2 separate regions of the Homo sapiens genome follow, and region 2 is linked to region 1. The links come from fine-mapping of genetic effects on gene expression. A gene starts in region 1. The other region holds a variant in brackets. All regions are shown on one strand. Distances are between the middles of the regions.

Region 1 (4,246 bases):
TGTACCCGGAATGTCTGTTATCATACCTTCTATAATCTCCTACATACAACTCCCCCAGTTTAATCTCTTGGTATTATAATTTTTGGTGTAGTACTTTTGATGCATGCCCTAAAATAAATTCTCTTCTATTGCTTGTCCAAAGGTAGCAGCGTTTTCCTAAAAATCACAACTTTAAACTTGGTTGTTCTGGAGGCAAGTGTGATGAGTAAGTCCACTCCATAAGAATCAATAAGAATTTCTTTTATTCTAGCTGGGCGTGGTGGTGAGCATCTGTAGTTCCAGATACTCAGGAGGCTGAGGCAGGAGGGTCACTTGAGCCTATGGTTTTTGTTTGTTTTTTTGTTTTGCTTTTTTTTTTTTTTTGAAACAGGGTCTCGCTCTGCCACCCAGGCTGGAGTGCAGTGGCACAATCATAGCTCACTGCAGCCTCGACTTCTTGGGCTCAAGAGATCCTCCCACCTTAGCCTGTCGAGCAGCTGGGACTACAGGCATGCGCCACCACGCCCGGCTAATTTTTTTGATATTTAATAGAGATGAGGTCTTGCTATGTTGCCCAGGATGTTCTAACTCCTCAAGTGATCCTCCTGCCTCAGCCTCCCAAAGTGCTGGGGTTACAGGCGTGAGCCACCGTGCCCAGCACATGTCTTCTAAAAGCTGCTGTTTCTTCCTTTTTCAGGAGTTCTTTCCCATACTGTTCTTCTGGATGACTCCTCGTCATCCTTCGGATCTCAAATGAAAGGTCATTTAGAGAGGCTTGGCCTGACCATACAATTCAATTAGTTTCTTACCCCTTTAGTCTCTCTCATAGACCCTGTTATTTTCCTTCATCTCATTTATCACAAGTCTTCATATATTTATTGCGTTGGATACATTCAATTCTGTCGATTTTCTTAGAATGTAAGGTTTCCAAGGGAAGGGACTTCGTTTTGTTCACTTTTGTATTCCTAGAACCTAGCACAATGCCTGACACATAGCAGGTGTTCCATAAATATCTGCGGACTGACTGTCTATTTCACTTATCCTTGTTCCTTGTACTGCATTTCAGTTCTCGCTACTGCAGTGTAACCTCCAAGAGACAGGAGAAAATCATAATACCCCCCTCCCTCCATCACTGAGTGATACTGAGACGGCGTCCTTGCACGTTTGAGCAGCTGCTGCCTTCTCCTGGGAGGCTGTCAAGTACCCCAAGGTGCACAATAATTCTTTTAGTAATTGCCTGACTGAGGCAAATCAGTAGAGCTGTCAGAAATGCTTTCAAACTTAACATTCATTGGGTTCTTGGGCACCTGAAATTGCAAACAATTGCATTACAATTAAGTGAGAATTAGCAGAATGTTACAGTTCTTTAACAATTTGCGTAACAAACCGAGGCGTCCTACGCCATCTCGCTGAAATGAAATTCGGATGTAGACACCCTTGCGCTTCAGGACTCTACGCTCTTGCAGCAGCTCCTCTGCCCAATGGGGGGCGGCAGCATCTCAGTAACTCACTCGAAAGACGGGTAGGCGGGAGGAGACATTCGCGTTCAAAATCTTTTTGCCTCTATCCGCTCGCCGTAGCGCTTTAGCCCGCTCGAGTTTCAATGCGCGTTGTTGCTTAACGAAGCAGAGTCCTACACACTGTCTGCTGCTCTCCTGATCATGGCTTCTCCGAGTTCTTTCACCTACTATTGCCCTCCATCTTCCTCCCCCGTCTGGTCAGAGCCGCTGTACAGTCTGAGGCCCGAGCACGCGCGAGAGCGGTTGCAGGACGACTCGGTGGAAACAGTCACGTCCATAGAACAGGTGAGGTGGCAGGACTGGGCGAGGCGCCCGCGCGATGTGTTCTGGGAGCGCGAGTCCCGTTCGTAGGGCCGCCCGGGTGCGGAACTCACCGGGGAACTACGACTCCCACAGCGCACCGCGGTGCCTTTCCTCTGGGAAGCTCCGGGCGCCCAGGCTTGGGCTTCGTCGTGGAGCGTTTGCGCGGCCAGCTTGGGGAAGGGTCGTTTCAAGGTTGGGCTTGGAGGAGAGGGCAGTAGCCGAGTCCCCTCTGCCCTAAAGAACGAGAAGAATCGTGTTCTATGCCTGGAGGACAGAGGCAGCCCGTGCGGGTCGGACAGCCCACTCTGTTCTGCCAGTACTTCGGGAGGTTCTGGGGTGCATAGTGCACTTTTCCCAACCTGCCCTCAGCTTCTGGAGGCAGAGAGCAGGGCCAGGCTGCTGTCATGCCGTTTCACGATCTGTTTAATTTTTGACCTACAGTGCCAGGTTTGGGGGCCCGCCTCGTGGGTGGGCATTTTGGTAGTCATTCAGCCATTTGAGCACCAGCTACGTGTCGGACACAATATTAAACGATGGAAGTACAAGGAAATAAAACAGCTCCTGACCAGGAGCCTGGTTGGGGGACAGGCAGGAAAACAGTTTGGAAAGTGATCTAATAGAAAGAATGGATTTTGGACTACTAATCATTCCCTAAGGCCTAGAAGTAGGATCGAACCTATCATTTTGAAAAGTGTTTGGCGAATGAGTATATATTCATATGCCCAAAACCATAGTTTTGTTTTTCTTCTTATTCCCTAATTGGAATTGTTCCCAAGGTTGCTATGTGGAACTGTTTATCCATCTGTCCCTAGGAGAAGTGGTTAGGATAATTCTTAACACTAATAAATGAACATTCTGCTGCTTACTGAAATAAGATCTCTTAGTGAGATCAGTCTCCAGGCTTTACCTTGGAGAGACCTGTTTTGTATTTCCTACTTTAAGTTGGAAGCCTGTACTTTGGCAAAATTAGTAACAATAATTGTTTTATTGTACAGTTATGACTAAATAGAATTATAAATTTATAACAGAAACAAGGGCTTGATACGTGGTTATTCACAAAGTAGCAGAGAAAATATTTTAACTGGAGATTTAAACTTCATGGAATTTAGGGTAGCAAAGGAAATCCTCACCTCTCGAATCTAGCTAATTCTCCAGGTTGGTTTGCCTACCAGTGTGTCCCAGGGAAGGCTGACTGCAAAAGATTGTAAAGAAATTTCCCATTGATGAAAAACCTACAGGATCTTTGCAGAATTCCTAAATGATGGATTGCTGAGTTGATTCAGGTCAAGTGTTTTACTTATTATCTGACCTTAGACTATGGGATTGCCTTTTTTTTTTTTTTTTTTTTTGAGATGGGGTCTCGCCCTGTTGCCAGGCTGGGATGCACTGGCTTACTGCACCCTCCGCCTCCCGGGTTCACGCCATTCGCCTGCCTCAGCCTCCAGAGTAGCTGAGACTACAGGCGCCCACCACCACGCCTGGCTAATTTTTGTATTTTAGTAGAGACAGGTTTCACCATGTGGCCAGGCTGGTTTTGAACTCCTGACCTCCAGTGATCTGCCCTCCTCGGCCTCCTAGAGTGCTGGGATTACAGTCGTGAGCCACTGCTCCTGGTGCGAGTATCTTTCAAATCTAGACCCAACGGTATGGCAGACAGTAAAGAATCTTATATTTCTTTTTCATGTTGTTATTCCAGCACACATTATTAGAGTCTAGGATGAACAGTTTCAGGTAGTAGGATGATAATGTTGTATCTCATTTTTGTGGCCTTCCTCACTGTTTTAATAATCATGTTAGTGACCATTTATTGAGTCTCAGCACAGTGCTAAATGCTCTCCATATGTGGTATCATTCAATCCTTTCACTTTTTATGGATGAGAAGACTGAGGTTTAGAGACCTACCACATTGGTAGGTTAATGATACATTCATCAAAAGTAACAACCTTGTTAGGAGGAGTTGTTTACAGAGGATATACTAGTACTCTTTCAGTTTTAACTAAAGCTTCCATTTACTGATAGCTCAATTTTGTGCCATTGCCAGTAAAAACAAATTGATGGCTGACACCTGTAATCCCAGCACTTTGGGAGTTCGAGGCGGGAAGATCACCTGAGCCCAAGAGACCAACTTGGGCAACATAGCAAGACCCTGTCTCTACCAAAAAAAAAAAAAAAAAAAAAAGTAGCTGAGCGTGGTGGCATGCACCTGTAGTCCCAGCTACTTGGGAAGCTGAGGTGGGTGAATTGTTTTTGAGCTCAGAAGTTCACAGATGAGCCATGATCGAGCCACGGTACTCTAGCCTGGGCAACAGAGTAAAACCCTGTCTCTTAAAACAAAAAACGACTATACTGATTTTGGTACTGGCCTGGGCAACATAGCAAGACCCTGTGTCTATTTAAGATGAAAGCTTTTCAAATTAAAAAAAAAAACAAACAAAAAATAAATG
Region 2 (4,521 bases), 29 kb after region 1:
TTATATGTCTGTCCAGTGCTCTCTTCCCCTACAGGTAACCACACACATTCTATATCCCAAGCATCTCAAGAACAGAAACCAGTTCAGGCATGGTGGCTAATGCCTGTAATCTCAGCACTTTGGGAGGCTCAGGCAGGTGAATTGCTTCAGCCCAGGAGTTCAAGACCAGCCTGGGCAACATAGTGGGATGCTGTCTCTATAAAAACTTAAAAAATTAGCCAGGCATAGTGGTGTGTGCCCGTAGTCCCAGCTACTTAGGAGGCTGAGGTGGGAGGATTGCTTGAGCCCGGGAGGTTGAGGCTGCAGTGAGCTGAGATCATACCACTGCACTCTAGCCTGGGTGACAGAGCGAGACCCTGTCTCAAAAAAATAAACGGTAGAAACCAAATTTTATTATCATCCCCCCAGTGTCTAATACAGTGCTTGGCACAAGTAGATACTATCAAATATTTGTTGAATCAGTGATTGAGTTAAGCTAGGAAATCTCTTCAGAGAATGTATATCTCCTTGGTTCTATACCGAGAAAATAGCAGCCCCTAACCTCCTGGCCTGTAGGAAGTCCTCTGCTCAGCCTTCCTTAGATGCCTGCCAGGGAGGGATCCACTGGGTTCAGGGTCATCTTTTTTTTAATCCTGTTGTCTTTTTTTTCTTTTCTTTCTTTTTTTTTTTTGAGACGGAGTCTTGCTCTGTCGCCTAGGCTGGAGTGCAGTGGTGCCATCTCGGCTCACTGCAACCTCTGCCTCCCGGGTTCAAGTGATTCTCCTGCTTCGGCCTCCCAAGTCGCTGGGATTACAGGCGCACATCACTATGCCCAGCTAATTTTTGTAATTTTAATAGAGACAGGGTTTCGCCATGTTGGCCAGGCTGGTCTTGAACTCCTGACCTTAAATGATCCACCCACCTTGGCCTCCCAAAGTGCTGGGATTACAGGCATGAACCACCGCGCCCAGCCTTGTTATCTTTTTTTTTTTTTTTTTTTTTTTTAACAGATGGTCATTTCAGCTCCTGGCTAAGGCCACAAAGCAAAGTGTCCTTTATTCACTGATTGTTGTTTGAGCAAGGGTGCCCTCCTCCCCCTTGCCAGGCTGCTGGGAGTGAGACAGATACAGCCTTGGCAGCAGTGTCTTGGAGTGATTGTGAATAAGGGATGTTTTCTCTCCTGTCTCTCTCCCAGTGTCTGGATGCCAGCCGCCCATGGCTCTGCTATTGGATCCTGCACAGCTTGGAACTGCTAGATGAACCCATCCCCCAGATAGTGGCTACAGAGTGAGTCTGTCTTTGGGAAATCTGGGGTGTTCTCTGAAATTGTATTTTGAGTTTGGGATTTTGTTTTGTTTCTGTTTTGTTTGTTTGGAATGGAAAAAAACAGTGCCACAAAGAAATCTTTGCTCTTCTCATGACCTCCGGCAACTTCCTGAAACTCCTCCACTTTAGAAAACTAATGTAAGCTGGTGGGTAGAACAAGACTTTGAACTTCCAAGAGAAGGATTCTGGTTTCTTCTGTGGCCTTTTCTTTTGGCTCTTGACTCTGGTCTTTGAGAAAAGTCTTAATCATCAACTCTGAGAGACAAGATTTTGCCAGAAAGTACAGTATGCATTTGAACAGCTTCTGTGGGGAAGCACGTGCCAGTCCAGTGAACAAAAATGCCTTTGCCTTTCCTACGCACCTCTATAGAAGTACCTCCCCGCTCCCGGTGCTTGGAGCGACCATGTAGCTCTTGATGGGACTGGATGTGTTACTGGTGTGGCATACAAATGCCATGACTCTCAGTTTTCCTAAACCTGATCGATGATTAGAGATCTAAGCAACTGAGCTTCTTCCCAAGATCCTTGTACAGATGGCATTCGTGATCTGGCATCTCATTCCCAGACACTCATCACCATTTATATATTAAAGAAGAAAAGACTGATCATGACTCCAGTCCTAGGGATACCTGGAATAAGAAAGGGCAGCCAGGAATTGGATCCAAGAGATCCACTGAGAGGCAGCATGGGCTCTAGGCAGCATCTCGAATTTCTCAGCTTCCTCTGGTGCTCTTGAGGTCGAAGCATCTGGGATGAGAGACTTCTGAGCCAGGTTTGTTTCTCCACAGCACAAGGAGGCAGCTGTGCTGGGACACACAGAGGCCTAGCCGGGGCCCCTCTCTGGTCACAGAGCCCCTGCCTCAGTCACATTGTCAGGTCAGAGGAACAGAACTGCACATTGTCTCATTCATTCTGTCTTAACAATAACCTCTCATTCTTGCCTTCCTGGGCAGGGTGTCTTGTGATGAATGTGGATGGGGAAGATAATAAAGAATTAGGCCATTAACC[C/T]TTGTGGTACGTAGGATGCTTTCTGAGGGAGAGGCAAGTGCATTGTTTTGATCATCGGGATGCCACTGCAAGCCTGGCTGCTTCCAGCACTGGAAGGAGAGTTGGACACAGTTTCTGCAGTAACAGGAATTTAATTGTCAAAGAAAGGCCCACGTGGTTTTTTTTTTTTTTTTTTTTGAGACAGAGTTTCACTCTGTCACCCAGGCTGGGGTGCAGTGGCACAGTCTCAGCTCACTGCTGCCTCTGCTTCCCGGGTTCAAGCGATTCTCCTGCCTCAGCCTCCTGAGTAGCTGGGATTACAGGCACCCACCACCGTGCCTGGCTAATTTTTGTATTTTTAGTAGAGGTAGGCTTTCACCATATTGACCAGGCTGGTCTTGAACTCCTGACCTCAGCTGATCTACCTGCCTCGGCCTCCCAAAGTGCTGGGATAACAGGTGTGAGCCACCACATCCAGCCTCGTGTGTTTTTGAAATACCAGCTCGGGGGCCTGGGGATTGTTTGGGAAGTTTTCCCTTCACTCCTACACAATCAGGATATTTGGAAAGTTTTCCCTTCACTCTTGCACAATGGGAAAGTTGGGTGTGAGAGAAGAAAGAAAAAATGGGGATTTCTGTGAGCCTGGATCTGAACGCTGGATGGAGGAGGCCGCAGACCCATGAAAAACTGGAAGAGAGAATCACAGGGGGTGCCTGAGGTGGAAGAACTCGAGCCAAAATCGACTGAGTTTTTTTCTAGGCTGTGTACTTGGTGTTTTATAGTGAAGGCTTTTCTGAGGAAGTGTCAGCGCCGCTTCTGGGGCAATGTCACATAGGAAGAGAGGAGCCTTTAAAGGGCCTTTCATTGGAAGCAATCTAAATTAAATATCAACAGTAGAGAATGTTTAAAAAAAATTTTTTTTAAATGTAAAGCTGGGTGTGGTGGCTCACGCCTGTAATCCCAAGCACTTTGGGAGGTTGAGGTGGGTGGATCACTTGAGGTCAGGAGTTTGAGACCAGCCTGGCCAACATGGTGAAACCCCATCTCTACTAAAATACAAAAATTAGCTGGGCATGGTGGTGCATGCCTGTCATCCCAGCTACTCGGGAGGCTGAGGCAGGAGAATCGCTTGAACCTAGGAGGCGGAGGTTGCAGTGAGTCGAGATTGCGCCTTTGCACTCCAGTCCGGGCAACAGAGTGACACTCCATCTCAAAAAAATAAATAAATAAAATACATAAATTTAAAAAATAAAACATAAGTCATTTATGGTGCAGTACATTCTGTGAAATACTATATAACCATTAAAAAATGTATAAATGTGGCCACGCATGATCACACCTGTAACCCCAGCACTTTGGGAGGCCACGGTCAGAGGACCACTGGGGCCCAGGAATTCAAGACCAGTCTGGGCGACATAGTGAGACTCCATTTCAAAAATAAAAATAAAAATAGCTGGGCGTGGTGGTGCACACTTCTAGTTCTAGCTGCTCAGGAGGCCGAGACAGGAGTTCAGGGGTTTGAGGCTGCAGTGAGCCATGATGGCACCACTGCATTCCAGCCTGGGCAACAGAGCAAGACCCTGTCTCAATAAATATATGAATGTGTATATTTGTATGTTAAAATATATGTATTTATATAGAGAGATGTGAAATGAAAATAGTTTAAAAGATTTAATTTACATACATTAAAAATATAGATGATGATATGCATAGATAGAACCAGAAAGATACATGTAGTAGTTATTTCTGGACGATGGGGTTAAAAGTGATTTTATAAACTTTCTGGGCTGGGCACGGTGTCTCACACCTGTAATCCCAGGGCTTGGGGAGGCCAAGGTCGGCAGATCACCTGAGATCAAGAGTTCGAGACCAGCCTGGCCAACATGGGGAAATCTTGTCTCTACTAAAAATATAAAAATTAGCCTGGCTTGGTGGTGTATGCCTGTAATCCCAGCTACTCGGGAGACTAAGGCAGGAGAATTGCTTGAATCTGGGAGGTGGACGTTGCGACGAGCCAAGATCATGCCACTCTACTCCAGCCTGGAGGACAGAGTGAGACTCTGTCTTAAAAAAAAAAAAAAAAAAAGGCCAGGCGCGGTGGCTCACACCTGTAATCCCAGCACTTTGGGAGAACGAAGTGGGTGGATCACCTGAGGTCGGGAGTTTGAGACCAGCCTGGCCAACATGGAGAAACCCCGTCTCTACTAAAAATACAAAATTAGCCAAGCG

Direction of the effects. Alleles are on the strand shown, and positions count from the first base shown. SD is a standard deviation of normalised expression in the study named.
In carriers of allele T in region 2, the expression in tibial nerve of the gene that starts at base 1,582 in region 1 tends to be higher than with C alone (moderate effect, 0.47 SD a copy in GTEx).

What was found. PIP is the estimated chance that this variant, and not a neighbour inherited with it, causes the effect. A credible set is the group of variants that fine-mapping cannot tell apart.
Region 2: its variant is the best candidate, but not a certain one, in a credible set for the expression of FNTB in tibial nerve (GTEx, PIP 0.86).

What each region holds. Positions count from the first base shown.
Region 1 is chr14:64,985,314-64,989,559 of GRCh38, forward strand. It overlaps FNTB (farnesyltransferase, CAAX box, subunit beta), which reads left to right and starts at 1,582. Exons shown (of 12, transcript NM_002028.4): 1 at 1,582-1,784. The coding sequence starts at 1,641. The region is part of intron 3 of CHURC1-FNTB (CHURC1-FNTB readthrough); the gene reads left to right. LOC107984655 (a long non-coding RNA gene) reads right to left here and starts at 1,800. Exons shown (of 2, transcript XR_001750792.2): 1 at 1,367-1,800; 2 at 226-1,286.
Region 2 is chr14:65,014,451-65,018,971 of GRCh38, forward strand. CHURC1-FNTB (CHURC1-FNTB readthrough) reads left to right here. Exons shown (of 14, transcript NM_001202559.1): 6 at 1,175-1,266. FNTB (farnesyltransferase, CAAX box, subunit beta) reads left to right here. Exons shown (of 12, transcript NM_002028.4): 4 at 1,175-1,266. It also overlaps a transcript of MAX not described here. Among named protein-coding and RNA genes, the nearest start is that of MIR4706, 28 kb to the right of the region's middle. The variant C/T (reference allele first, on the strand shown) is at 2,314.